4 linked regions of the Homo sapiens genome follow. The protein of the gene in region 4 interacts with the protein of the main gene of each other region in a biochemical or structural test. Each region holds a gene or a part of one and is shown on either strand. Other genes may lie near its edges.

What was found.
Region 1: the proteins of PTPRF (region 4) and ARHGEF2 form a complex in vitro, tested with the Homo sapiens proteins (one study listed by BioGRID).
Region 2: the proteins of PTPRF (region 4) and GPC4 form a complex in vitro, tested with the Homo sapiens proteins (one study listed by BioGRID).
Region 3: the proteins of PTPRF (region 4) and VCAN form a complex in vitro, tested with the Homo sapiens proteins (one study listed by BioGRID).

Annotation. Positions count from the first base shown.
Region 1 is NC_000001.11:155,961,548-155,968,576, forward strand, and holds part of ARHGEF2 (rho guanine nucleotide exchange factor 2), read right to left. Parts: intron 5,341-7,029; coding exon 5,273-5,340; intron 4,933-5,272; coding exon 4,869-4,932; intron 4,214-4,868; coding exon 4,084-4,213; intron 3,866-4,083; coding exon 3,756-3,865; intron 3,585-3,755; coding exon 3,441-3,584; intron 1,637-3,440; coding exon 1,386-1,636; intron 1,172-1,385; coding exon 1,046-1,171; intron 676-1,045; coding exon 558-675; intron 363-557; coding exon 114-362; intron 1-113. UniProt on the Homo sapiens protein: Activates Rho-GTPases by promoting the exchange of GDP for GTP.
Region 2 is NC_000023.11:133,307,474-133,314,502, forward strand, and holds part of GPC4 (glypican-4 precursor), read right to left. Parts: intron 3,951-7,029; coding exon 3,785-3,950; intron 1-3,784. UniProt on the Homo sapiens protein: Cell surface proteoglycan that bears heparan sulfate. May be involved in the development of kidney tubules and of the central nervous system.
Region 3 is NC_000005.10:83,467,589-83,474,743, reverse strand, and holds the start of VCAN (versican core protein isoform 1 precursor), read right to left. Parts: upstream 3,001-7,155; 5' UTR 2,721-3,000; intron 1-2,720. UniProt on the Homo sapiens protein: May play a role in intercellular signaling and in connecting cells with the extracellular matrix. May take part in the regulation of cell motility, growth and differentiation. Binds hyaluronic acid.
Region 4 is NC_000001.11:43,526,109-43,533,896, forward strand, and holds the start of PTPRF (receptor-type tyrosine-protein phosphatase F isoform 1 precursor), read left to right. Parts: upstream 1-4,774; 5' UTR 4,775-4,982; intron 4,983-7,788. UniProt on the Homo sapiens protein: Possible cell adhesion receptor. It possesses an intrinsic protein tyrosine phosphatase activity (PTPase) and dephosphorylates EPHA2 regulating its activity.

The sequences.
Region 1 (7,029 bases), about 110 Mb from region 4:
ACAGGCGTTGAGCCACTGCACCCGGCCAAGAGAGGTTGATTCTAAGACCTGCAGGCATCTCCCACTCTCCATCTGACTTTGAATTCCTGCCTAGTCTGCCGAGCAGGTCTGACCTTTGAAGCGCCCCGTCGCTGTCTTCCAGAGCAGGCAGCCATCGTGGATGAGTTTGCGCCTCAGAAGTTCCTCTCGGCCAAAGGGGCCCTTGCCAGGCACTGGGGTTTGGGCCCGAGGGTCCATGCGGTTGTAGATCTCCTGCAGACGGGCCCCTTTCTCCAGCTGATAAATACCCTCGTCCACATTGGACAGCAGCTCCTTCACTAGCCCCAGTGCTGTGGTCAGGTCCTGGCGCTCCTCCTCGATCCCTGGCACCGGGGGTTGGCATGGGGAACGGCTCAACCAGTTTCACTCACACCCCAGTTCCCATCGTGTCTTGATTCCACCTTTAGAGGCTGCCCAGGGTTTCACACCCGACCCCACCCTTCCTGTGGTCATACCGAGCCTTTCCTCACCCCAGGTGGCCGTCTCCCAGTGGCCCTCTCCTGGGCCTGCCTACTCACCGTGGGAATGCTGCAGGATGCGGCTGATGAGTAACGGGTACTTGGTGATGCGCTGAGTCACCAGCAGGATGCACTCCTGTACCCCGTGCCGCTTGAGCACGGCGGGGCGGGTCACTTTCTACAAGGGAGGAGGCAGGGCTCAGGGCCAGAGGGGAGGGCAACAGAAAGGCCTGGGGCCTGAGCTCTGGTGCTGGCCCTGGCGTGGCCATTTACCTCATGCTTGCCTAGGTGACATATCTGGAAAATGGGGATAACAACGCCACAGGTTTGTTGTGAGGACCAACTGAAGGAGCAAAAAGTACTTGGGAAACTACCACAACGTGCTCTAGCATTCTGAGGGGTTACTGCTGACAGGATCTGTGTATGGATGGTCTGCACGGGTGGCGAATGCCTGACCTCCATGTGGGTGCAGCTCACAGGCACTACCCCCATGAGTTGGGGAGGGTGGGTTTGGGCCATGAGCATGGGATCTGGAGAGGTCCGCTCACCCGGATGAATTGCTGGAAGCGTTTGTCTCGGGCGTACAGCTCCTTATAGAGCTTTAAGGCCTTGCTGTGGCGGCTGCAGAACTCCGAGTAGGTCTTACACATCTGCTCCGCACTAGGACCTGAGAACTAGAAGTTGGTCGAGTAAGGTTAGGTCAGCATTCCCCCAAAGCCACACTTTACCCACTGGACACACCTCTGGCCTCCTGCCAAACAGGCTGGCTTCCTGTTTCTCCAGCTCTCCCTGGCTCCCCTCCAACCCCTAGAATTTGGACCCAAGAAATGCCCAACCCAGTCACACCTCCTTCCATGAATGTCACCCAGGGGTCCTGCCTTTTCCCACCTGGCTGATGAGCAGATCACCCAAGCGATGGATGACAAAGTTCCGGGTGCTGCCAGGGCACAGGGCCTGGCGTCGGCGTTCTAATAGCTGGCTGAGGAAGCGTGTATGGATGTCACTGAGCTCGTCCACGCAGGGGAACAGGCCCTGGACCACTCCTGGCTCCAAGTGTAGCTCTTCCAGCATCCCCGTGCGGAAGAGGCGGGTCATGATCTTCAGTGTCCTCACATGGTGCAGCTCTGTCTGGATTAGCTCTGTGGGGGACATTGGGACATTTGGCCTCTACCCTGGCTTGGCTAAAACTCGTGGGGCCCTAGGATAAGGACCTCACAGTTCACGTGAGGTTTTCAAGGTCCATTCCAGGTTAATATTCTGCATTATTATGATCTTAGATACTTTTCTAATCATTTTTATCTTTTTTTTTTTTTTTTTTTGAGACAGAGTCTCACTGTATTGCCCAGGCTGGAGTGCAATGGCGCGATCTCAGCTCACTGCAACCTCCACCTCCTAGGTTCGAGCAGTTGTCCTGCCTCAGCCTCCTGAGTAGCTGGGATTACAGGCACGCACCACCAGGCCCGGCTAATTTTTGTATTTTTAGTAGAGATGGGGTTTCTTCATATTGGTCAGGCTGGTCTCGAAATCCTGACCTCGTGATCTCCCCACCTCGGCCTCCCAAAGTGCTGGGATTACAGGCATGAGCCACCACACCCGGCCCTCATTTTTATCTTTCAAAAATTTTATTATTATTTTTTTTTTTCCAGAAATGAGGTCTTACTCTGGTGCCCAGGCTGGAGTGTAGTGGCACAATGATAACTCACTGCAGCCTCGAACTTCTGGGCTCAAGCGATCCTCCTGTCTCAGCCTCCCAAGTAGCTGGGACTATAGGCACATGCCACCACACCTGACTAGTTTTTTAAAATATTTTTTAAAGACGGCTGGGCACGGTGGCTCACGCCTATAATCCCAGCACTTTGGGAGGCCGAGGCGGGTGCATCACCTGAGGTCAGGTGTTCGAGACCAGCTTGGCCAACATGATGAAACCCTGTCTCTACTAAAAATGCAAAAATTAGCCGGGTGTAGTTGTAGGCGCCTGTAATCCCAGCTACTTGGGAGGCTGAGGCAGGAGAATTGCTTGAACCTGGGAGGCGGAGGTTGCAGTGAGCCGAGATAGCGCCAGTGCACTCCAGCATGGGCGACAGAGCAAGACTCTGCTTCAAAAAAAAAAAAAAAAAAAAAAAATATATATATATATATATATATATATATATACATATATATATATATATATTTTTTTTTTAGAGACAGAGGTCTTGCTTTGTTGCCTAGGTTGGTCTCAAAATCCTGGCGTCAAGTGATCCTCCCACCTCGGCCTCCCAAATCGCTGAGATTATAGGCATGAGCCACCACGCCCAGTTCCATTTTTTATCTTTACACCTTATCATCTCAAGCTGTGAGCTATTTTAGGGTAAGAACCATATGTCTTCTACATGTCGAGGCTTCCCACAGTCTCCAGCACGGTGTTAAGCGTGGAACAAGCACAGAGTAAAGACTGAAGACAGAGATAAAGAAGGGATAAAGAGAGGGTGTTGGAGACCAACAGCATCAAGAGGTAGGGACCTAGTGGGCAACCTGTGGGATACCAGGCAGGGTCTTGTAGGCCAAGAGGGAAAGGGTTTTGAGAGGTAGGGGCTGGTAGAAAGAAGGACACAGCCGGGTACGGTGGCTCACGCCTGTAATCCCAGCACTTTGGGAGGCTGAGGCGGGCAGATCACCTGAGGTCAGGAGTTTGAAACCAGCCTGGCTAACATGGTGAAACCCCGTCTCTACTAAAAATGCAAAACTTAGCCAGCATGGTGGCAGGCGCCTGTAATGAGAATCGCTTGAACCTGGGAGGTGGAGGCTGCAGTGAGCCGAGATCATGCCACTGCACTTCAGCCTGGTTGAGAGAGTGAGACTCCATCTCAAAAAAAAAAAAAAAAAGAAAAAGAAAAATAAAGAAGGAAGTAGATAAACAGGACCTGGTGAAGGAAGAGGAAGACTAGGGTGGTCTTGGCTTACCATAGATGACATCTTGCTGCTTCATCACCTCCTTTTTATGCTGCTGCAGGAAGCTGCTGTCCACAGCAAGACTCCAAGAGTCAGCTGCAAAGTCCTTCTCATCCATCTCAAAGTCACTCATCAGCTCACTGTAGATTACCTCTGCTGGACATTAGCAGGGCAAGCAACTCAGAGGTCTTGAGTTCCCTTCCCTGGGTCCCTGGCCCTTCTCTAGATCCCTTCCCTCCTTGTCCTTCCAGGCTACTCCCACCAGCCTCTCATCCCCCAGCCCCTCTTCATGTTCCTCAGGGCTCCCCTGGGCCCAGGCCTGCTCACCTTCGTCAATGAGGGATTCCACGGATAGGGTTCGGTTCCGCATGTTGAGGGAGTCTGTGGACTGTGAGAGGATCCGGCGCAGCCCCAGGGGAGACTCATCATTGAAATGTCTGAAGAAAGTGGAGGCTGTCTGCATCACCCCCAGTCGGGCAAAAGATCCCTTCCCAGGTAGGGAACCAAAGCCAGGATCCAAGAGGCGGTCCCCCTAAGTTCTCCTTATTTGTCTGTCTACAGTTCTGAACTCAGGGATGGAAAGGGACCTCTCAGCACCCCCTTGGCCTCCACTGCCACACTCTCTGGCTGCCCCTTTCCCCAAACAGAGGCTCACCCAGCAATGTTGGTGGTAGAAACACTCTTGGCTAAAGACAAGGAGGAGCGGCCACGGCGGGAGCCCAGGAGGGACTGCCGGAAGCTGTCGGAGGGGTAGATGGCCGAGCTTGGCCGCTCCCGGATGGTTGCTGTGGGGGAGAGATGCCCAGCAGGCAAACATCAGACTCTGGTGCTTCCCAGGATTGAGGCCTCCTAGGCTCCTCAATGAGGAATGAGGCATCCTCTCACTCCACCTCAGCCCCTCTAGTCAAGAAAGATGGTAATGAGAATGCCACCTTACATTTGTGCCATACTCTAATGTTCACAAAGAGCTTTTTCTTACTTATCTCCTCCCTGACATAAGCCTATAAACAAACAGGAGCTCAGAAAGACAAAAAGACTTGTCCAGGGTGACTTGGGTAATGGCTAGGCAGGGACTGAGGCTCTGCTCTTTATACCTAAGGGCCATGCTCTTTCTGTTACACCAAAGCTGTCTGAATTGACACTTGACAGCTGCTACCAACACTCCCGAAATGCAGTGTAAATAACTGATAAAAATGCAGGCTGCGGCCAGGCTCAGGCGACCACCCATCCCCAGCCCTCATCCCCATTCGGACTCTCTCTCCCCTTCTGCCTCTAAGTCCAAGAGTCCGAACCCTCCCTTAGGCCCCCACTATCTGCTTCCAATCAAGAAGAGGAAGGTGCTATGCCTGGGAACAACCTTAGTGGGGCAGCAGAGCCCATGGGTTGAGCAGCCTGGGGTCCAGGGTCTTAGGGGACCTCCTCCACTCCCCAACTACTCACTCTTACTTCGAAGAGAAACGGACTGCAAGGCGGTGTTGTTCTTCAGCAGGGCCGCTTTCTGTTGCTGTGAGACAGAGAGCAGGAGAGAGATACCAAGAATGGCTGTCACCCAAGGATCACCCCCAGAGGCATGGGACAGGAGCTAGGTGGCCGGCCCCCTTAGGAGAAAGCTGGCACTATGGTTAAGGGGATCAGGGTGATTGAGCCCAGTGCTGTGGGGACATGTCTGCAGCAACAGGCCTGGCCTACTTGGGGCCCGAGGCCTGGGGTTGAGGGTCTGGGCTGCCCCTTGGTGAGGAGGTGGGTGGTGAGAAACACAGGGTAGGGAATGAATGGAAAAGGCATGAGGGTACCGCACACTCACTACCCTCTCCCCCAGCCCTCTGCCCTCCCTGCCGTCTCACCTTCTGCTTGACCTTGGTACAGTTGGCGAGGGTGTCTTTACAGCGGTTGTGGATAGTCACATTGCAGGCTGGGAGGGTGGGGTAGAGAGGGTGAAGGGAGGGCCGGGTGGTACAGGAGGGGACACACCCACATGCAGACACCCATCTCCTCCTGGCCACACAGTCCTCGGGGACTCTCCCCCCTTCCCCGACTTCTGGGCCATTACCACACCCCAGTCCCTCTCCTCCCACCTCCCTCTTCCTTCAAGCAGGAAATGAAGTGAGGGGGGTATAGGTGCTGAATGAAATTAAACAATCAAGTGGGATGGGCAATCCTGACCCCAAGGTGGCCTGAAGGGCGGACCAGAGGGGAGCAGGGGTCACTGGCTGCCAGAGATGAGCTCAAGAAGCACGAAGGTGGTTGCGAATGGCAGATGGAAGAGAGGACTCCCACAGAACAGAAGATGGCACAGAGGCAGCCAGAATGGGGGCTAGGGGCAGAGGGGAAATTTACATTCCCTGAGCTTTTATAATAGTAAATGTTCCACATTTACTTAATCCTAACCACCCGTAGAGGGAGGTTCAGTTATCCTCATTTCATGTATGAGGAACCTGTCCTGGAGTGGCTAAATCGTCCATCAGAGGTCACACGGCTAGTGGGAGAGGTGGTGTTTACACTCCGGTGGGCCTGAATCCAAAGGCCGTGCTCCTTCCCTCGCACCACATGCCCTGGACTCTGGCTGGGCCTCAGCAGCTCCAAGGCTGATTGATGGCTCCAGTGGTAAAGAAGGGACAGGCAACTCCCCACCAAGCCTGGCCTTCTCCCTTCCAGGCCCAGGGAGTCCTGTTCCCCCAACTCAGGCAAATCCACAGCTCCCACACTCCATCTGCTTCTCCGCCATCCTCCACCCCACCTTGCCATGGGGTAGGAGAGAAGAAGAAAGGAGGATTCGCTGAGCCTAGGCACTGGGACCCTGGCCGTGCCCTTCCCAGACATGCCCTCAGCTCCCGGCCCTCTCCAGCTTCCCCTCCCCCATCCAACAACACCGGAAACTCTGCTAACTCTTTCAGACAATACCCAGCACCACGCTCACTTCCACAAATACAAGGCAAACAGGGTGGAGCAGAGGGGGCAGACAGAAGTGGGGGTTGCAGCTGCCCCCACCCCCCTGGAGCTCCCTTCTCCTACCCCCAACACTCAGTGTCTCTGGATTGAACCTCCGCTTTCCACCTGCTCTCAAAATAGTGCTGCCCGCCTCCCCTGTTCCCCTGGCAACAAGCTTCCGGATTGGGAATTTTGTCAGGTCTCTATAGGGATCTAGATTGGGGTTCCCTCCTCATCCTCACAACTCTAAATTGAACAGTGAGGAAAGTAGGGAGGCTTCACTGGTTTTCTTTTCTTTCTTTTTTTTTTTTTTTTTGAGCGGTAGCAAGCTTTATTGTGAAGAGCAAAATGACAAAGCTCCCACAGCGTAGAAGGGGACCCGAGCGGGTTGCCCATCACTGGTCCTTTCTGGGGGTTCCTTCCCCAAGTTTCATAGGGATTTACAGGCTAGAGCTTTTGTCCGCTATTCAGTAGCAGGTCACAATACCTTCAATCCTGCTCTAATCAGAGGCATCTCTGCCATAACTTCAGGAGGAATTGAGGGAGAGGGGGCAGCAGGAGCCCTCTGTGTACTGGGGAAGGAAAGAATTCCTGGCTTATACTCCCTAAAGACAGGACTACACTCAGATGTGGATGAAGGGCAGGAATTCTAACCCCTGCCCCTCAACACACA
Region 2 (7,029 bases), on a different chromosome or scaffold from region 4:
AGTAATAACAAATGAAGTTTCAGAATGCATTGTGGTAAGCGCCAATCAAGTGATGCTTCTAACTCTAAGTAAGGGCTGAAAGCATGAATATACCATTGTACTACAGGAGAGAAAAAAAATGCTTTTGATGTGCTAGCAAAAGGAGACTTTTGTAAACAAGTGGAGCACAACTTAAATGTGTTCATCATTGTCAAATCATCAGGGCTGCCACGTACAGAAAGCACATTCCTTCGTAAGCTGAGAAGAAATCACCTGCTCCCAATAAAAATATTATGAATAGACAGAAAATAAACATCTAAAATGCAGACGTTTAAATAACAACAACAACAACAACAACAAAACCCAGTGCATTTTGTAACTCCTTATTCCCCTAGTGGCAAGGAATGGCCAGATCACTAATGTGTTTGTGAAAGACTGAAAGGAAACATAAACCCCAATTCTTCTGGCTGTTTGGCGTCTTTGTAAACTCTGAGCCAGCCGGCTATACACAAGAGCCTGGGAATGGAGGGGGAAGCTGGGCCTTTGTTGGGGCCGGTGCCATGGTGTTGTGTGTTGCGCAGCTGAAGAATGCAACTGAAGAGCATTCTGCCTGCACTCTGCAGCCCGGGAGCCAAAGCTGCCTCTAACCCCTGGAGGAAGTCATGATTGGCTATCAATTGGCTCTTCTGTAACAGCAGCCAGCCCTGATAAGAAGCCTCAAGAGAAAGCCAAAGATGATTGGTTTGGAGTTTGGGTTTTCTTCTGGCTGATACGAGCCACGGAGGCCCTTGTTTGCGGGATATCTGACTGGCTCCTGCCTCCTGCCAGGACCTGGCTGGTGTCCCCGCCAGCAATCCCAATACTAAATTCCCACTGGCAGCAACATGCGACATTAATAGGGTTGGCCCTGAGTCAAATGAGTGTTAACACAGCTACAGTATGTGATGGAGAACAAGTTGCATAGCATAATTTATGATTCTCCAGAAACTGACTTTTGTTGGTGGGGGCAAGGGAGGTATTTGGTTTATATTTCCAAGTGAAGGTTTCATATAAACCAGCGTCTTATAAAACCAAGTTCTAAGGTGTTTTAACTATTTGGATCCATCCTGATAAAAGGCTGACAAGACTTCAACATTTACTAAAGGGTCTCAATTCATGGCCAGTTGCAGATGCAGTTAAGAGAGGAGAGGAAGAGCATGGCAACAAGAAGACGGATTTGGAAAACCAGTTCATCCTTAGTCTCTTAAAGGGTCTAGTCCAACTGCATTATTTCAGTGCTCAAGACACTGGCACTGAGTTTCCCCCCATACCCCCAGCAACAAAGCATCCCCTTCTCACTAGGGAAAGCGATTCCTTTTGCATTGTGCTGCCAATAATCAGAAACCCACATCTTCAGCCTCCCGACCTGACTGGAAGAACAAAAGGCAGTTTCCCGACTTAACCCCAAGATCTGATTTAAAGAAGGGGGAAAAAGCCCTTGACCATTCATTAGCTGCAGTCATTTAAAGGGGAAAGAAAAATTCCTTGCAAACAGAAAAAAAAAAAAAGAGAGAGAGACAAGAAATAAAAAAAGAATTTACAGCAGAGGCATGTAAATTGGGACTGAATTCTACAACCACAAAGCAGATTAATTAAACCCTTGTGAAAAATTCATGAAAAAGCACTGGAGATTAACAATGTCTATTACTCCTGGTCTTTTATATCTGCTTATTAGAAATAAAGAATAGTATACCCATTAAAAACAAAGTTTAGATACAATTATATACCTCATCCCTCCAAAAAGTTATCACTTAAAATAACTAGGGAAAAATCGATTCAGAAATCCTATCAACTTCTACTTGGGTTTGTTTCTTCAAAGATAACAAATGTAATTTTAAAAATGCCCAACAAGAACAACAACAGCAACTTAAGTCCTCTTTGTTTTCGAGTAACTGATTTAAAACATCAATAAAGAAAGCCAGAGTGTGGTTTTGATTTGATATGGACCTGTAAACTCCAGGAAAAACACGTAGGAGCATTTGTATTTTAATATAAGGATATGAGTTTAGTTATAGTTGCTGCTAGACATGTTAGAGTATCAAAATAGTGGCAAGGGCCATGCCCTTCTGCATTCCATTCCCAATGTGTCTGTAGAAAAGTCAGCAGAATTCGATCACTGTCACCATACACTTTTTTGTACCATATGGCAAATTCTACTACCTTGCCTGGAGAAACAGTGAATTATAGGGGCAATTGAAAAGGATCACCAACTTTCTTTAAAAATTCAATTTTGCAAAAGTGAACTGCAAACTTGACATTTGGGTGTGGGGATGAGTGTGGGATTAAAGAGAGAGAGAGAAAACAAAAACAGCGACTTTAGATCTGGAAATTCTATGGGTTTTTACTTCCATGAGAAATATTTTGAATCAACAATTTCTCCCATGGCTTCATTCTGGGCATGATGTGCCATTTGGCCTGTATGTCTTTGCTGGTCTTATGCCTTCCCTTTCATGAGATTCTGCTTTTCTGTGTGTAGAAGATTTTTTCAGGTCTTCTAGCTTTGAGCTATTTAGGCTACAATTGTGCTGAAGTGCTTAATATTCACATCTTTTTTTATCCCCCTGTGTCAGTGTTCTTAAGAATCTGTTGGAGCCAATTTATTGATGCACTTTCAAACGGAGTTAATATGGTAATTAGCTCTCACACAGACTAAAAAGCATTCCCCAACATTAACACCCCTCACCTCCCCCCAAAAAACCAAGCCAGAATACTGCATACATGTTCCCATGATTTGGACAAATAAGTGAAAAACAGGTGCTTATAAAGACACTCAAATTCGGCAATTATGCAAAGGTGACTAGGGTGGGGAAAAATGTGAGTTTCTTTTTGTGAGCTGTTAGTATGTGTGTGCGGTCCTACTAATACTCAGCATAAGGAACTTCAACACTGGTTACTGTTGCTTCAGGCATCAAGGTAATTGACAACTGGACATTTAAATTCTCCTTAATTTGTCCTTTCCCCAAAATCATAACTAACCCTCTCTGCAATTGGCCACTTCATTTACATTGCTGTCTGGGTTCTGAGAATGGTTTTCTAGGTGGAATATATATGCAGGAATATGTATCCCTTAAATTCTCAGGGCTAAAGTCCTTCCACTCTCACCAGAGCAGACTACTACTGCTAAATGGTGTACAGAAACAGAATCCCTGAATTTCTCAATCAGATTTCACCTGATCCAAATAACAAATGCGTATCTGGCCGGTTTGCAGAAGATTTAGTTGCAGTGTAATAGATATAACATTTTAAAAGCCACTTTTACAACTCCATGAGGACTGTACTCCAGCATTTACATGGATACAAGCCTATAATCATAAACACAACTGACTTTCAGGCGGGAAATATCAAAAAGACACTTTCTCAGTGAGTGGCTCATGCCTATAATCCCAGGGCTTTTGGGGGGCTGAGGGTGAGAGGATCGCTTGAACCCAGGAGTTTCAGGTTACACAGAGCTATGATTGTGCTGCTATACTCCAGCCTAGGTGACAGAAAGAGACTCTGTCTCCAAGAAAAAGGCATTTTCTCATTATTAAAACCTGGCAGCCACTGTATCTATTACCTTCAGAAATGCCACCATTAGTTTGAGGGAACATTCACTTGCAGTAATGTTTTTACTATTCTCAAAGTAGTTGAGCGTAGTCAGGATTCTGACAAACACTAAATAGCAAACACTTAAACAAACAAATTTCATAGCTGCCAATTACAACATTCCTTGTGACTGGAAGCTAAGCTATCTCCAGCAACACAAATATGTTAACCACTTGCTCACCTATGAAATTGTTCCATTCAAAATCGAGATCCCCTTGGTTGGCCAAACAGCCTCTCATGATGTTTGAGCAGTAGTTGTAACATGGCTTCACAGTCACGAGACCCCGGCAGTGGGAGCAGTAGATCATCTTCAACAGGGCATGGGTACACTGGGCTGTGGGGTTTACCTAATGTGTGAAAAGAAAAAAAGACAGTAGTGGCGGGGCTAAAATAGAGACAGAAATTGCTTCTATCACATTGACACTGAAGGCTTGGCCATGAACTTAAGAATGAGTTGTGATTGATCACAATTAGTAAGCCTGGACTGCCTCCTGAAGACATAGATTAGATAAAAGATACATGTTGGGACAGGGGAGAGGAGGGAGATGACCCAAAACAAACAAGGTGCACCAACTCCCACCCTGTAAACACCCATTCCTCCCCCACCCCCTTCCCTCCTGGAGTCTCTCTCTCACACACACATAAATTGCTCAATTATCTCAAAATCCTTTTACAAATAACTATGCAGGGTGAGCCATGAGATGCAGTGGAGGAGACTATCTTCATGTGCCCACCATGCACGTCCTGCTAATAGCCTCAACCATCAGTGTTTGTCTTTGCCAGACTGGAACAGAAGCACATCTTCTTCTGCATTACATTGACTACAAGGCTGTCCTTTGAACCCTAACCCCAAATTAAGGTTTAGAAGGGTACCTACGGTGTCTTCTGTTCTGTGCCAAGAGCTGTGCAGAAGGCAAAGTTAATATATTCTACAAGGCAGAATATGAGTAATCTTAAACTTAGGGGGTGTGTGAAGGTTTTCCAAGGCTTGGGAGTACTAAAGCACAGAGTGTTCACAGAACACTTGATGAAAGAGGTGGGGCTTTGGTTAAATTTTCGAGAAAGGGGCTGGACTTAAGTGGTCAAACAAAGGGAGAGCATCCTGAGTTAAGTTCAATGAAATGAACAAAACCTGTAGGAGAGTACAGGACATGTCACTGCATCTCAGAATGGGGTTGGGGAATTGCGGGAAATAAGGTCAGGTGCACAGGAGTATGCGTGTGGCCAGAATTTAGAGGGGCTTAAACATCAGGCAGAAACTGGGATACCAGTTGCCAGGCACGGTGGCTCACGCCTGTAATCTCAGCATTTTGGGAGGCCGAAGTGGGCGGATCACAAGGTCAGGAGTTCGAGACCAGCCTTGCCAGCATGGTGAAACCCCGTTTCTACTAAAAATACAAAAATTAGCCGGGCATGGTGGTGTGTGCCTGTAGTCCCAGCTACTCAGGAGGCTGAGGCAGAAGAATTGCTTGAACCTGGGAGACGGAGGTTGCAGCGAGCCGAGATCTCACCACTACACTCCAGCCTGTGTGACAGAGTGAGACTCTGTCTCAAAAGAAAGAAAGAAAGGAAGAAAGGAAGAAGGAAAGGAAAGGAAAGGAAGAAAGAAAAAGAAAGAAAGGAAGAAAGGAGAAACAAACAAACAGGGACACCATATGGCAGGACACATGGGGCTATGACTGGAAGTTTGTGAGGAAGGAAAGGAAGAAAGACAGAAACATTACCCAAGTCAGATTGGGCTGGCTGTCCTCTCCAGAGAAATGGGACTTCATTTCATCTAGTTTTATAAAGTGAAATTATTTGGGGTGTAGAAGAGCTGATTCCATCCGGTCACTTGTTTTCCTCAATGCTTAGAAAGGATTGGGGCTAGGTATAGCATTCTAGCAGCTAATTAAAAGTTCCTGTCTCCTCTTTCTCTCTGCCCCACCCTCCTCTTTTGGAGTCAGTATCAGAGGATTAGTGCATTCTTCTGTGTAAGTACCCACCAGTTCTGCTAACACAGACTTTTGGAGGCAGATACCACCACAGGGAAGAGATGCTGGGATGCAGGGCAGCCCGGCAATGCACTTCACCTGCTCTGGAGTGTTACTTTGGATATCACTTATCAGCAGTGCCCTTAGGAACAGGAACAGGGGATTAGTGGTGTCAGGAGAAAAAAAACAGTCAGGCTCCTACGTGATGCATGTGCACATCCATTCCCCTCATCCCAAACAAGGCTCTAGCCTAAAAGGGGGGAATACGTGTAACAATAAAATGGTAATTGTATACACTGCCCTACCAAGAATTAAGATTTTTCCACAGTTTTAACCATTCCCAAATGTTTTCCTAGGCACTAAATTAGTCCTAACTATGTATTAATGTACAGTAAAATTTTGGCTAACCAATATACCCTGGAGGAATGGCCTTTTCTGGATAGCCAGATTTGCTGGACAGCTGAAAGTTCATTCCTTTAAAGTCACAGATTGTTAAGACTTCCCTACATGTCCCCCTCTCCTTTTGTAAAGGAGCAAACAGGACTGGAGGGGGGAGGTGGCCTGAGAAGCATAGGATCACAGAAGTCTTAGAGTTGGAAGGGACCAGAGAGATCACTGAGTGTTGCTCTCACATTTGATAGATAAGAAAAACCAAGCCAAAGCCAAAGAGATTAAGCAACTTGCTGACAGTCACCTCACAACATCGGATTCCAGTACTATACCTTATCAAGCATTTGTGATGAAAAGATTTCCCAGATGTATCACGTTTCCCTGCCAGATGACAGGAAACTGTAATCTTAGGCACTGGTTATTTCCTACTTTAGTTTTAGTTGGGTTCCACATTGATGAGACTGCAAAATGGCTAGATTTTAAAGAGGTAAAAGTTATGCAAGTGGCTATGAAATGAAAAATCACTGAATAGCACGTGGCATTTGTTGAATATTATGCTTAAGAGGAGACAATGCCCTCGTAAGAAGAAACGTAGAAAGCTAAGGGGTCAACAAATAGTTACTGAGCACCTACTATGTGCCAGGGATTATTCTGGAATGCATTTGAATTTAGGTAACAAGGCAAGTTAAGAATTTCTATATTAGAATACAAAACCTGTTCTACAAAATACAAAGCAATTCCAATGTGGTACAGGACTTTAGGAAATGAGCAAAAATTTTAGACCCAAAATAGTTATATTCAGAAAACACTTCTTTTTTCAAAGAAGTCCTTTCTCATTCTTTTAAAAAATAACTCTAGGAAGTGGTTCATTGTATTCTTAGTTCAATTGCAAGTCAAATCATTTATGCAACAGACCTTGTAGTACCCTCCCCTAAAATAGGCTGATGGAGGCTCAAGTTTTAAAAAGAGACCAAACTAAATGACACAGTAGAGTTTTATTAAGGGAAATTATGATGCTGAGTTTGGCAGAGTTCTTCCATTTCATTATTTGGCTAAGTGCTGG
Region 3 (7,155 bases), on a different chromosome or scaffold from region 4:
TCGGTTAAGCTGGGCCCTGCCTTCCCCGCCCCGCCCCCATTGGCCTCGGTGGGTGGGGGCCTCGGCTGCGCCGGCCGCCTGTGCGGCTGTACTGCAGTCTCTGAGCCCAGGAAGTCACACCCGTCTCGGCTGGGAGCCGAAGCGCCAACCCACGTGGCGGCTGGCTAACCCAGCCGCTGCGGGGAGCGCCCGTTGCGGGTCCTCCCTTGGCGCGAGGTGAGCGAGTGGGGGCGGGCCCCAGACCCAGCCCCTTTGGGCGGGGCTGGACCACCTCCGCTTGTCTAGTTCTTTCCCACCCTTCCATCCCGGCACGCCTCTGCAGTCACATTTGTTGCCGCTGGGAAAGGGAAAAGAGTATCCTAAAACGAGTCTCGAAATTCAGACCCAAACCCCGAAACGAACCCTTCCGGTCCGTTCCTGGCTGTTTGAATGCCATCTGCCCCATCTCCGTTCCTTTCTCCTTTTCCTCCCCTCCACGGTCCTCTTTCCTTCCACTTCCCTTCCTTCCCTTTCTTTTTTCCTCCCACTGCCCGCCTTCTCTCCACTTTCCCGTCCGACGCCCGCCCTGAAGTTGAGGAAGTTTAAGTTTTGGATTAGGAGCCCTTCTTTTGCAATATCCTGGGGCGGGGCCCTAGCGTTGGGTTCAAGTGGTCATGGGTTTTGAGAGCACGGTATGTGTATTATCTTTCTTAAAGACGCCCAGGGTGGCGCGTCTAGACCTCCGAAACCTGGCTCCACCCTGGCCATGTGCGTTCGTCCACTAAGCGGCGAACTGGACCCAGGGCGCCGCGTGCGTTCCAGCCGACTCGCGAGAAGGCATCTCTGCACTTTGCACAGACCAAGACCTTTTTTCAGGGTCCTCCAAACTCCTAGATGTACGCCGCAGATTGTGGAGTGCAAAATGAATGACTTAAGGGAAAACTAGGGCCTTCCATCCTTGAACACAAGGTTGTGAAAGATGCTCGCTTGGTCTGGGGGGCTTGTTTTTCTCCGCCTGTGCGGGACTTCTCCATCAGGGGGCGCCCACACCCGCCGCAAAACTCCCAATTCCTAGACATCTAGGTTCTGCAAGTCTTGTGAGCTGAACTGGGGGCAGATCCGAAGGAGCGCACCGCCTCCCTCGCTCCTCCCTCCCTGCTGCCTTGGAGCACGGGAAAGGCAGGGATTTCACACTAGCCATTCATTTGTCAGCTGTGGGGGAGGGGACGCAGAAGCTAGAGAGAGAGAACAGAGGCTGGGAGAGGGGAAGGGAGGCAGAGAAGATGGAGACAGAGGGAGACACAAAGATGAGGAACGCGACCCAGAGAGACTCTGCCGCGGGTGTGCGCGCGGCAGGACAACTCTCCAGGCGCCGTGTAGATTTCTCCCCCTTCCCGCAGCATCTCCCAGGGACATGCAGGACTTGCCGAGACGCAGTTGGATTGGAGAGCAAATAGTTTAGGCTATGACACTATTTTTCTACCCCGCTCTCCTCTGCCTAACACCCAGACCGCTCCACGCCCAGTGACACAGACCGCGGGCCAGAACAACCCGGATGCCCTAGGTCTGCACGCACCAGGGATGTCGCCCTACAGCGCCCACGCCTCTGCAGGACGGTGGGGCGCTCCAGCCGAGGACGTCCCCCGGGGCTCCCGGCACACGCGCGCGCCGCTGCCGCTAGACCTGCCAGTAAAGTTGCTCAACTAGAGCGGAGAACTAGGAGAGGGTGGGGAATATGTAAGGAAACGGAGGACTCCTGTAGTCTGGGCGAGAGGACTGACCCAGAGGCCCCTGATTCGGGTCCCCGAGCCACCTTTGTCTGCAGTGCGCTCTGGGTGCCGGTTTGCTTGTTGAGATGGGAGCGACAGACCCTATTTCACTCTTCAGGGTGAGAAAAATTGTTGCACATCCCTGCCGATTCAGAACAGGCTTTTCCCGCCCAGGGGCCTCCCAGACCTCCGCGGGGCTCCAACAACCCCACCCCCCATCCTCTGCTCCTTCCCTGCTGGCCCCTTCGCACCGCGTGCAGGACAAAAGAACCCAGGGGCGCCGGGAGAGAACCGTGACAGTCCCCAAGTCGTCAAAGAGACACGGCGGGGATCCTGCACCTCCCCCGGCCGGACCTCCTCCCAGACTGCCTGCGGTCTGAAGGGGTCAGGTCCGCGCAAGGTCCCAGGCTGCTTGGGCGCCGGGTCGCACTGTCAGGAGCTGCCCGGGAGTGGCTTTCCAGGAACACCAGGCACTGACCACACACCAGGGGCTGGGAAACCAGGTGGCCTGCACCAAGGCGGCTTCGGGGACTTGTCTGTGGCAAGTCTTGGTAGTCCCCATTCAAACTTTTGCCTCGAGCGTGTTAAGAACAACAACAACAAAAAAATCAAAGTGCCAAAGGTCCCTCTCTTCTCTCCAGCTCAAGAACCCACCACTTTTCTATGATTTCTTTACAATTTATTCCCTCCCTTCCCCCAATTCCGTTAGTCATTTTACCCCCCACCCCACCCTGGGTTTCTTTTGTCTGAATCTTTTTCAACACCAAGGTCCCTCTGTATGCCTCTCCCCAAAAGCCCTTATGAAAGTTACCTGCATTTTTTAAGTGCCTACATTTTCTTAACTTCGCCTTACAGCTCTTTGCCTTAATTAAAGCCTTCTACCAATTGCTTCTTTTTTCTAAGCTCGCGGGTTTTTTTCTATAAGTTTTTTGTTTTTGTTTTTTAAGGGGGGAACAAAAGAAACGTGATTACCTTGGAAGGCGGCTTATTGCAGTTTGGGGGGAAAATTCACTGCAGCGCTGCGCGACTGGGTTCGGCGTTGCCCAGGCGGGTCACATAGGAAGCGTGGTGGCCCGGGGAAGGATGCGGAGGGTGCGGGACGGTGCTGGAAGATGCGGGAGGATGCGGGGCTGGCCGAAGATCTTGGTCCCAGCTCCTGTCCACAACACCTAATGTTCTCGGCTGTTGCGTCCGCACGCCTGGAGTTCTTCCCCAGAAAGGCTCGGGGCAGCTCGCCTGCAAGTTCAAATGCGGGTTGTGACACCCATCATCATTATATCACTGTACCGTCAGAGCCGAGGAGGAGACTCAGCGAGAAGAAGGAGGAGGGAGAGGAGGAGGGTTCATTCACAGGCTCCAAAAGCGCTCCGCAGCTTCAGCCACTCCTAAGAGTCCAGGCTTGGAAAGCAGGCGGAGGGGCGGAAAGGCAGCTCCCCGCGCCTGCGGTAGGGACCGCCTGCCTCCCTCCCCAGGCACTCCCACCTCTTGGCGTTTCTTCCTGACAAGAAGTACCAATCGGCTTGGGGACAGCAGCGCTCCCCATTCAGGGACTCACTCAGTAACATCGCTCTGCTCGCGGAAACCACTGCCCTCCCACTCCTTCCCCACCCCCATTTCCCCGCCCCCCGTGCAGCTAGTTCTGGGTTAGGGGAAAGGAGCCCCCAGGCTCTTAGGGGGCAGGCCAGCAATAGACAATTGAGTACGATCACTTCTTCTCGGGAGCACACAAAACTGTAAAATCAGCAAAGAACTTGGTTACAGCGTGTTTACGCGCCCACAGAGCTTGCCTGTCCCATCAAAGGGAAGTGTCAGGCTCAAGGCTCCTGCCAACCTGAAAGAGACACTGAGAAAACGAGATCCTTCGGGGACCTAGAGGGAAAGTGTAAGAATTCCCCACTGCACTCCCAGGGAACTGCCCAATGGGGAGCCCGGCTTCAAAAGACCCTGGTAATAAAAGGCTGGACAGGAAATTCCCCCAGGCAAATCCCTTGTCGGATTCAAAGAGAATACTTTTCCTCTGCCACAAATCTCTCCCCACATAAGTCTAGATTCTGCTTTCTTCGTTCTTCCTTTCCTTCAGTCTTTCCAAGTATCTCTGAGTAGAATATTTGATAATTTTCCTGAGTAACAGGGACTTCTTGGAAGTATCAATCACCTTTCATGCTTTCCGGAAATAAGACCATAATCTTTCATGCGTATATGCGATTTTTTTTCTTCAGTCAGGCCCACCCCACTGTGTAAACAGCATCAACACATGGAAGAGTCCCCTGCATTGTGTTACAAAAGATTTCCAATAGGACCTTACAGAGAAAAGGGTCAAACAGTTGACACAAAGGATTTCTGTCCCCTTAGAAAAGAGGGACTTTGGATTTTCCTTTTCTTTGAAGTCAAGTATGAGTTTATACAATAGGAACAAAATAAATCCAAGGTGCACATCAGTATAACACTAGGGATACTAGAATGGATGGCAAACTTTTCCTTCTACACAAATATGAAAGTATCCTCACAACTCTTCTCTCTGAAGCCTCTACTTAGAAAATTATATTAAACATAGGACCTCAAAACAGTAGTGATTAAAGATGAAAGCCAATTTTTCCTCTCAACTTCTTTGATTAGTTTGGTTTAAACTTATGCTTTAAAACTTTTAGTAACTTAGACTCCTGTACATGCGCATTTATAAGATTTCTTTTATATTTTGTAATTTGTAGGCATTCAGCATGGTCATTGATTTTAAGTGATAAACAGGTAGAAGACTTGTCAGGATAATTTCAGTTCTCACCATGTGCATCTTTCATTTCTTTTGTTATTTATCAGCCCTCTGCAGTAATATAACTGTCAGTTACATCATTTGGAAATCAATGTGTTTTTGCAGTGAATTATTTATTCTTAGTAAATTTATTGTACTACCATTCCAAACACTGAAATTTGATTTCATCAGATGTTTAGAATGATAGTCACAGAGCAGAATCAGACTTCAACCTTCATGTATAACATGTAAACAAACTAAGGTGCAGAAAGTTACTGTCCCAAAGTCACACAATTAATAGTCCAGTGGTCTTTTCAGTGCTAATCATAGCAACTTTAGATTCAAGATTGCTTGATTCAGGAATGGAGAGAAATAAAATAAAATGAATGTTCATTGAAATATATACTCCAGACATTAAGATAGACCTTTCTGTGAAACACTTCAAGATGTGGATTTGTATTCTCATTCTTAAATTTGAGTAAATCTAGTTGAGTTTCAAAGAGTTCAAGTAACCTGCCCAAGGCCATTTTGTAAGTGACAGATCTGCCAGTCTGAAAAGCTTATTATCTTTTACCCTTTTGTCCCTTTATGATACAGTTAAGTAAAACCTTTCAACAAAGGAGAACTAGATCAGAAACAAGCAACTAATAGCAGATTAATGCCCATTTTTAGGGAAATGTTAATAGTTAACATTCACTATAAATAATGCCATCTGTATATAATGGAACATGATTGAAAGTGATGGGTTAGATACTTTTTACATTCTGAGATGTTTTCATTTATGTTGCCAAATTTGATTCTCTAATCCTCCAAAATTTTTAGTTTCTTTTAATGCCAATAGACTTCACAACACTTGACCAAATACTTCTACAGGACAAAGGCACTTTCTCAGGGCTGACTTAAGGAATTAGAATATGCACAATGTTGAAAAGCTTTAAACTGCCTGTCTTTTCTCTTCTTTGACTTGTAACATTATTATTCAGAAAATTAAATACTTCTTCAGGCTATCAGATAACTAAAATGAAATTATACCCCATGGATATCTTCTTTCTATCTCTAGGGCAGACTTTCCCCTCTAGCTGTCTAAAATGGAGAATGGATAAAAAAGAAAAAGGAAAACATACCAGCTATATTTAGAATAGAGTCTACAGTTGTATTATTATTTCTATGTAACTGTTTTTAATGACTTTCCTTCATCAAGAGAAAGAAAATGAGAGAGCATTTATTTCTGATTCTCCAATGCCTGACAAAACTATCAGAAGTTTTTGAATGGGAAAATATATATTTTTCAGGTTTTATAACTAAAATTGTATTTATTTGTCCATTACACTCAAGTATGAATCAAACAGTAATTAAAATATTATTCTGTGAGTCCCCCTTTAAATCACATCCTTGTACTGGGGATATTCTTTGTGAAAACTCCAAGATCCCAGGTATAAATAAAGCAAGATCTTCATTCACAATGCTTGTGTCTAAAAGAAACCATAAGCCAGAAGCTATGTGCCTTGCTTCCTTGCTTTGATCTTGTCTTTGGGAATTTGGCTGAGCTCAGGGGCAGCAAGCCAATGACTTGGAGAGGAAAGGTGTAGATGGCAGATGTGTCTCCAGGGAATTTTATTATCTTCATCTAAACCTCCTTCTGAGGTTCTTTAGGATTACATTTCAGACTTCTCCTTTTTTATTGATCAGGTGAAGTGTTCTTAGACATGGCATCATCTATTGCTGCTCTAGGGATGACAAGATTCCAGTCCCATTCAAATTCAGAAAGAGCTTAGTTTCAACTCCTTGATCTGACTGGTCCTAGGCACAACTAAGCAAATTATCCTCACTGGATGATACAGTAATGCTACAGATTAAAAATGTACTTTTAACTTTCAAAGACCCTGGAAAAAGGAAGCCTATCCTCTAAGATTGTGTCATAATTTTTTTTTTAAATAAAACACTGCAAATTAGGGACAGACATTTCATCCAGCACTTTGAATTCTCTTTGGCTTTCTAGGAAAGGCAGAAATACAAGGTCTTTATTGCCTTCTTTTTATTCTTAAAAAAGAAATCTTGCAAAAGGCAAAGTGATGGTGGCAATCTCATTGTGCTTTAACCCGAAGTATATAAATTGCTCTGATAAATTAAACACAGACAAATTTCCTTAGAAAGCCATAAAACATTAGATTTTTCCCAGACATCAGATATTGAGTTTTTGCTCTCCAACCCCCAAATCAAAATGTTACAGTAAAATATTTGTTTTAATAAATTTTTTTTTCTCCTGTGCTGTAAATGTCCTGTTCATGGTTGAGCAGATTTCTCTAGAACTTAACTGAAAGACCATCTACATCACGACAGAACTATGCAAGCCAAAGCCAAGTTCCAACATGGAGTGATGGGAGAGGCCGGGCTGCCGAGAGGAGATGACTTCATTAGTGAGAAGAGAGGCTCTCTGAGCCGGTCCTCAAGGCAGCCAAATGGCTCAGCACATCTGCACTCACCCTGGGAGGCTGCCTGGAGCAGAGCATCAAAAACGCTATCTTTTTTATAAAGAAAAAGATGAAGGCATAAAGAACACAGTCCAACTAAATTGAATCAAAGATTGTATCACTCTTACTCCCTCCTTAGTCACTTTCTCAAAGTCTTTTTCTTCTCTCCCCACAGTCTGAAAAATATAGG
Region 4 (7,788 bases):
CCCTGAGCACAGGGGAGACAGAGCGGAAGGAGGAGAGGTGTGTGGGTTTGCGGATTTGGTAGTGGGAGATGAGGGAGTCCTCCTGTGGTGGCTTCTGTTTTCTCCGGGAAACATAAGCAGTGTTCATTGAGAAATTAACTCCTGTATCATTTCTCCCTGCCCATAGTGACTCAGCCGGAAGAAATGAAAGGCATTAGCCAGGGCCAGGCACTGCAGCTCATGGCTGCTGTAATCCCAGCGCTTTGGGAGGCTGAGGCTGGAGGATCTCCTGAGCCCAGGAGTTCGAGATCAGCCTGGGCAACATGATGAGATTTTGTCCCTACAAAAAAAATTTTTTTTTTTTAATTAAAAAAGCATTAGTCAAGCTTTTGTGTTCTAAGTCCTGGGCCTTTTTTCTCCCACCTCATACCTGAGAAAGTAAATAGGCCGTTTTGTAGTTCTTGTGTCTGAGCTAAGAGGGAGAATACCACTGTGTCTTGGGGAATTGATGCTTTGGCATGGAAGAGAGGGGCAGGGGAACAGGCATTCTCCATCCCACCCTGACCTGCCCCCAGAAGAAAGTGGCTGCATGCGATTCGAAAGCCAAGGACTAAGGGCTGCAACTGCGGGGGCCTGTGGGAGAGGTCCTCTTGAAAGAGCTGGGATGGAGGGAGTAGAGGGTTATCTTCCCAAGGACCAGGTTGGACAAGTGAGGCCCTGCAGATGGGCAAAAAATAGTGGAAGCCCTGTGACTGTGACCACTGATGTCTGCAACAGCAGCAGCAGCAGCCTGAAAAATCCTTCCACCTTTCTCTGCAAGGCTGTGGAGCACGGACTGACCATCTCTGGGATTGTGCAAACCCCTGGAGTTCATGGATGATCGGAGGGAGCTGAAGGGCAGCCATGAGTGATAGGGAAATCTTGCTGATCTGATGGGTAGAGACTCAAGCTGAATTTAATTTGGTTTAGACCAACTAAGGGATGACCAAAAGGTGTATTTACGTCATGAGTTGCAGAGAGTGTCCAGTTGGCCCAGGACCTGGACAAAGGGTGAGCAGTGAGTGGGAGCTGACATCTGGCTCTCTCCTCACCCTGCACCCTGGGGCTGGAACACAGCAGACACACAATGACCACATGGTGCCACTCGGCCTTCACAGATGAGCACAAGGACATCCCTCCCCGCCAGGCCCAGGAGCAGGGCAGCAGGGCAGCCCCACGTGGACCCCGTGCTCACAGTTTGGCAAACTGGACAGAGCCTTGGCTCTTCTCCTTCAGCAGCTATCACGCTCTCCCAGGCCCGGCCACCTGAGCTTCTCATCCATGTGGCTTTGGCACCTAGGCCTCTAGTTTCATTACCTTGGGTTTGTATCTAGTTCCAGATGGCGTACATGCAGAGATCTGGGCAGGCTGCTTACAGGCATTCTCTTGCCCTGCCTCGACAAACACTTTGCCACATGTGGGTGAATGAGAGGGCAGACGCCAATGGGTTAGGATTCTGAGACCCCTGTGTCCCTGTGGGGTTTGGAGCAAGAGACTGGTTGGCACAGCAGTGAGCACATCTGCTAACTTCAACCACAGGAAGCCAGGGGTCCCAGCTCACCTACCTTCCAGTACTGTGCTCAGTAGCCTTGACAATGCGGGGCAGAGGGAACAGGGCTGCCAGAGCTTCAGGACTACCAAGGCCCAGGCTAGCAGGCACACAGGCTAGCGAACACCACGAGCCCCTCTTCTAGTGCATGCCAGGGCTACAGAAGACTGGGGCTGGATGAGCTCTAAGACTTGGTCAGGGAGCTGTTCCCTCACTTAGTCATTTATGTCTGATGGTTCCTTGAGCACAGATAGGAAAGTCAATCTTCATTCTTTAACAAATATGTATCAAGTATCTATTGTGTGTGAGGACCCTGTGCTGGCCACTGGGATATGACAGGGAACAAGGTGGACTCATTTCTCCTGCCTGCAAGGAACTGCTGTCCACAGGTCAGGGAGATAGGCACAGATACAAACAGTGGTGACAGCCAGGATGGCTTCCTGGAGGAAACAATGGTTCCAAACAGGTACAGTTGGCTCTGAGGTGCCAAAACACACTAAAGGTAGAGCAAGTCTTTTATTTTATTTTATTTTTTAAAACAGAGTCTTGCTCTGTGGCCCAGGCTGGAGTGCAGTGGAGCAATCTCCACTGCAACCTCTGCCTTCCAGGTTCAAGCAATTCTCCTGCCCCAGCCTCCCAAGTAGCTGGAATTACAGGTGCACACCTGGCTAATTTTTGTATTTTTTTTTTCTTTTAGTAGAGATGGGGTTTCACCATGTTGGCCAGGCTGGTCTCGAACTCCTGACCTCGGGTGATCTGCCCGCCTCAGCCCCCCAAAGTGCTGGGATTGTAGGCGTAAGCCACCATGCCTGGCCAGTAGAGCAAGTCTTAAGGGGCATTATATTATAACTGCATGCAAGAGAAGTTAGGACCAGTTTGGCTTTGTGCGTGTGTGGACTGAAACCCAAAAGCCAGAAACTCTCTGCATGTGTCCCTCATGGAGCCATATGGTCTCTAGTCTCTGTTTTTCAAAATTTGCAGGACTGATGACTGATTGGACAGTGGTGCAGGAGGGAAGGTCTCTGCATGTCAGTGATTAAATTGCTGAAGATGCCACTGCCTGAGACGGGCAGTATTGAAGGTAAGCAGATCTGGGGTGGGCGGGACAGAGGAGGCTCTTAGTTATATGGATCTGGAGCTCACAGGAGCGGCCCAGACTGGAGATAGAGACTTGGAAGTCATCAGCATATGGTTGGTAGTGGTCAAGATGATCCAGAGAAAAGGGGCAGAGCAGGAGAAAAGAGGAGGCCTAGGACAGAGTCCCGGAAGAGCAGAAGACGAGGTGGTAAAGGAATCAGAGACAGTAGCCAGTGAGGAGAGGGTGGGCCAATGAAGCCAAGGAAAAGAACTGTTTTAATAACTCAGCAATGGGCAGGAATAATTGGCTGAAAAGTATACTTTTAAAATTTGGGGGCCGAGAGGGAATCTCTAAATCCTCAAAGTTCTGGAAAAAAAGGCAAAAATGCTTAAAGATGCATAAAATTTGCAATACCTCCCCCGTGGTGCACCAAAATTACCAATGGTGAAAAACCACTCACTGGAAATATTCATTTTTGATCCGTTTGTCATCCAAACCAAATTGTCCAGAATCACTGGAGCCAGTCCCATCCCCTCCTCATACGCCAGGGGGCGCACACGCACTGTTTGTGAATTCAAGTTCAGGACAAAAACAGGCAGTGAATCAGGTGGTTACCAGAACCTGATTCCTCAGCCCAGATCCCTGAACACCACAGCAACCATGCCCTGCACATTACCACGTGATCCCTGAATCCAGGCACCTCAACGATCTCCAAATTTTATTTCTCACCTGACTCCAAACTTACAGGGTTATCAGAAAGACCCCACAGAAGAAACCCCACAGAGGAGAAACCTCATCTCTTTTTCTGCTCAGTTACCTGACCCAGGGCAGTGGGGGTAGGTCCCCCATCCTTCATGGTGAAGCCTAGCAAGCGGCGGGGGGAGGAGGGGTGGGGTAGATAGGAAAGAGCTGGTGTGGCTTTGGCTGACTCTTAAGTGGTTTTAACACGGATTGCGTGGGGGCGGGGTCTGGAGGCAGGGGCGCTTGGATTGAAGCTCATCAAATCCCTCTGATCAGTAGGTCTTGGAATAAATCTTCAGGTAGGTTATTGGTTTCACCCAGAAATTTCTAGGGTCATTATTTGAGTTTGGTATGAGAAGTCAGAAACTCAGTACTGACATTTAAATTACATTTAGAGGGCATTATCATGTCTTTAATTCCGAGGCCAATGTAAGGTTCACAGCTGGAATTGGTATAATATTGGGGTATTAGTCAGTCTCTGCTTGGGGTTGACACTAGGTCAGAGAAGTGGAGGGTGAACATGAGGATGAAGGGGCTTTGTGTGGAGTTTCTGCAAAGCCAGTCTTATCTTGGGTTCCAAGATTATTATTAAAGCTGGGTTGGTTTAGGGTCCTAAATGGTCTCAAGTTTGGGTGGGGTTTCAGGTCAGTATCTGTGTTTGGGGGTCCTTTTATGGTGACCCAATCCCAACTCTGGAATTGAGAATCGAATTCAGAGTGCATTGGTGTTGATCTGGGAATGGGAGAGCAGTACTGGAGTTTTATGTAAGGCTTGGGGTTCAGAAGAGAGATAACTGGGGTCCATAGCAAGGTAGCTTTTGGACTTTAGGGTTCATTTAGGGACTGGGGGCTGAGCATTAGTACAGGGTTCCATTTAAGGTCCAGCGTTGGTGCTAGCGTCACTATCAAGGTTAGGGCAAGTAGAAGTAATAAAGAGATTTAGAGTCAGAATTGGTATTTGGGATCAGTATAGAGGTTCACAACAAAATTACTACTTGTGCTAATTTGGGGGCAGATTAAGGGCTTTGGACTCAATATTGGGTTTAGGGCAAGGTGTGGGCTCAGTATCAGGTTCAGATCTGTATGGGGAGGAAATGGGGTCCTAGAGTGGTATTAGGTTCATGCTAGGGCTGGGAGCCACTAGAAGGATCTGGATGTAGTATCAGAGTTTGGTCTGTCTATGTTCATTATTGGGGTTCGGGTTCAATATTGAGGTTCCGGTCGGTTTCGACTTGGCGTTGGGTTGTGGCCTGTCTGGGCCTCAGCGGCTCCGCGGCTCTACGAGCGAGAGTGCACGAGGGGAGGGGCGCCGCCGGGGGCGCGCACGGCAGGGGCAGGGGCGCGGGCGCGAGCGCGAGGGGAGCGCGCGGCTGGAGCTGGCGCGGGAGCGGCGGGAGCGGTGGCGGCGGCAGAGGCGGCGGCTCCAGCTTCGGCTCCGGCTCGGGCTCGGGCTCCGGCTCCGGCTCCGGCTCCGGCTCCAGCTCGGGTGGCGGTGGCGGGAGCGGGACCAGGTGGAGGCGGCGGCGGCAGAGGAGTGGGAGCAGCGGCCCTAGCGGCTTGCGGGGGGACATGCGGACCGACGGCCCCTGGATAGGCGGTGAGTGACCCCCCGGCCCCCCACCAGCCCCCTCCGCTCCCGTCCCTTCCCCGCTCTCCTTGCCCTCCCCGCTAGTCCACCCGGCGGAGCTGGGGGCGGTCCCGGGGGGGACGAGGGCGCCGCTGAGGCCGGGCCGCGCCCCCACCTGCCGCGCCCGCAGCCTCGGCGAAGCCCCCCCTCCACGCCCCAGCCTGGCGGCTCCTCCCCGCTCACCCCGCGGCAGACGCGCCCCCAGCGCTGCTGGCTGGCTCGCTCCCCGCCGCCCCTCGCCGCCTCCCTCCCTCTCCACCGCACCTTAGCCGCAGCCCGCCCCCCCCACCCAGCGCAAAGTTTCCCGTTTGCGTTCTTGCTCCCCCTCATCGGTCCCGCCTCGTCCCCCCTTCTAGCGCGGACGCGCTCCGGGGGCGGCCCTCAGACCCCCCAGCCCCGGGCTCCGGGCGGGTCCAGGCCGCGCCCCCGCCCCCGCCGCACAGGCGCCCCCTCCCAGCCGGCGGGGGATCCGCAGCCGGCGCGCCCGGGTCTCGCTCGCGGCCCCGGCGCACGTGCGGTCCCGGGCTGCGCCGGGCGCGAGTTTGAAGCCCCCCCACCCCCTTCGTTCGCGAGCACGGGATGGGGAGGGGCCGAACGGGCTGTACCCGCCCCCAACCGGGTGCAACGCCCTGGAGGCCCTGGAGCGACCTGTCCCGTGAGGACGTGGCCACTCGGACCCTCTCCGAAAGTTCACTCAGTGGCCGCCCCGCGTCCCGTCCCGTCCCGTCCCGGCTCCCCATCGCCGTGCCGGCGTCTCTGTCTCGGCTGCTTTCTGTTTTCCTCGGCGTCTCTGCCTCCCCGTGTCAGTGCCTCCCAATCTCACGCCCCTGCAATCCCAGGGTCTCTCCAGCTGTCTCCATTCTTTTTCCCCAGGTCACTCTGTTCTTTCTCCCCAGGTCTCTCGATTCTGTCTCCCTGGGTCGTCTTGTTCCCTGTCCCTGAGTCTGTTCTCTCCGCTTGGGTCTCTCTATTTCCTCTCCCTGGGTCTCTGTCTCCCTCCTTAAGTCTCTGCCTCTTGTCTCTCACCCATCTCTTGGTGTCTCTGCACTCTCTGTGCTAGGCGCCCCCCCATTTCCCTGGAATGCTGCCCCTCTGGTTCTTCCACCCCGGAGGGGGAGGGGCTAGACTTTCTCCCCATTTCAAGCCCCCCTGCCCCCCAGTGCACGGCCCCTGAGTTGGAGCAGGTTGGGGGTGGGGAGCGCTACCTGCCTGAGCTGTGAAATGGGAGAGGGAGGCTGCCCCAGCCTGGGGGTTGTCTGGATCTCCCTGAGGGGCCACAGGGCAGGGCCGGGAGGCTGGATTAGGTTGAGGAAGGCTCCACTTTTGAAGGAACAGGGGCAGGGATCCAGAGCGATCTGGTGTCGGATCTGGCCTGAGAAGCAGGGAAGTGCACTGGGGTGAGAGGCGTAGAAAAGGATGTGGGGTGGTGGTTCCAGGCGGGTGCTCATGGGGAGGAATCTGCTGAGAAGGGAAGATCTGGTGGGGAATCCTTTGGGAGGCTTCGGGGATCTGAGGGATCCAGAAGAGAGTTCTGACAGGCTATCTAAGGAAATTTCTGTGCTTAGCTCCTTATTAACTCTTGCTTCAGGGAGCATGAAAATCCCTGTTTTTTTACTGATTATATGAATGAGCCTAGGGCTTCAAGAAGGAGCAGGTGTAACTCCCCAAGTACAACCCCCTACATTCTCAGCCCCAGGCACAGGCCACACTTTCTCGTACCCTCTTGCCTTCATTTCCACACTCAGCTCACCCCCTCCACCCCCACACACACTCCCTATTCAGCTGCTTTCTTGCCCCCTCTCGCATACCTGGGCCCGCATGCCGGCCAGGGCTCAAGAAATCTGTGCCTGCACACTCTCGCAGCATACCTGTGCACATGCACAGTCATCCTTGTGTATTTTTGTATATGCACTTTCTTGCACATTTTACTTGCTCAGTCTCTTATTTGAAATGTCTTTATAGTGTTTTTTTTAGTTTCCTTTATAGTTTCCTTTTCCAGCTGCTCTTCCTCTTCCCTCTTTCTTTCCTTTAACAAGAAAATTGTTTTAACATAATTCCTTCCTTCCTTCCTCCCTTTCTTCCTTCTTCTTGCAACTACTGATACCTCCCCTTTATCCAGCTTTGTGTGCCCTGGGCGGGTTGGCTTGGTGTACAAGGCTGCCAAGAGAGGAGGGGGTGGTTGGGTGTTGGTGAAGGAATTTGGCGGGGCAGAGTTAGACTGCAGCAAACGGAAACTAGCTACACATCTTTTACTGGGAAGTGTATGGATACGCAGCAAAATACTAGCCCTGGCAGTTTGGGCACAGTCCACCCTTTTTTCCATCAGCCTGAACTATGGGAGTCTAGCTTTGAGGGTCCTCCCTGGGGGCGGGGAGGAGGGGACCCAGACCTCCTGCAGTAGAGGGGTTGTGATACACACCACGGCTCCTCCACTTTCCAGCTTCAGGCCTCAAAGAGGCCCCTTTCTCCCTGAGTCTCAATTTCACTCCCTGTAAAATGGGGTAGCTAATCCAACCCGGACTGGGTCCCAGGGCTGTTGTAAGAATCCAAGGGAACTGTGTGGCAGTGCATCGTCAGCAGTGGCAGTCACTTCCCTTGTGACTGACACTGCTGTGTGCTTGGTTCCAGCTTGCAGTCAGGGCCCTACCCTCGAGAAGCTCGTGGTCCTTGGGGGAGCAGGTTGCACCATGGGATTGCAAAAGCAATTCAGTTACCTGTCATTGATTGCTGACTGTGTGCCAGACCCCGGGGTAGGCGCTTTCGGCCCCGGCTGCCT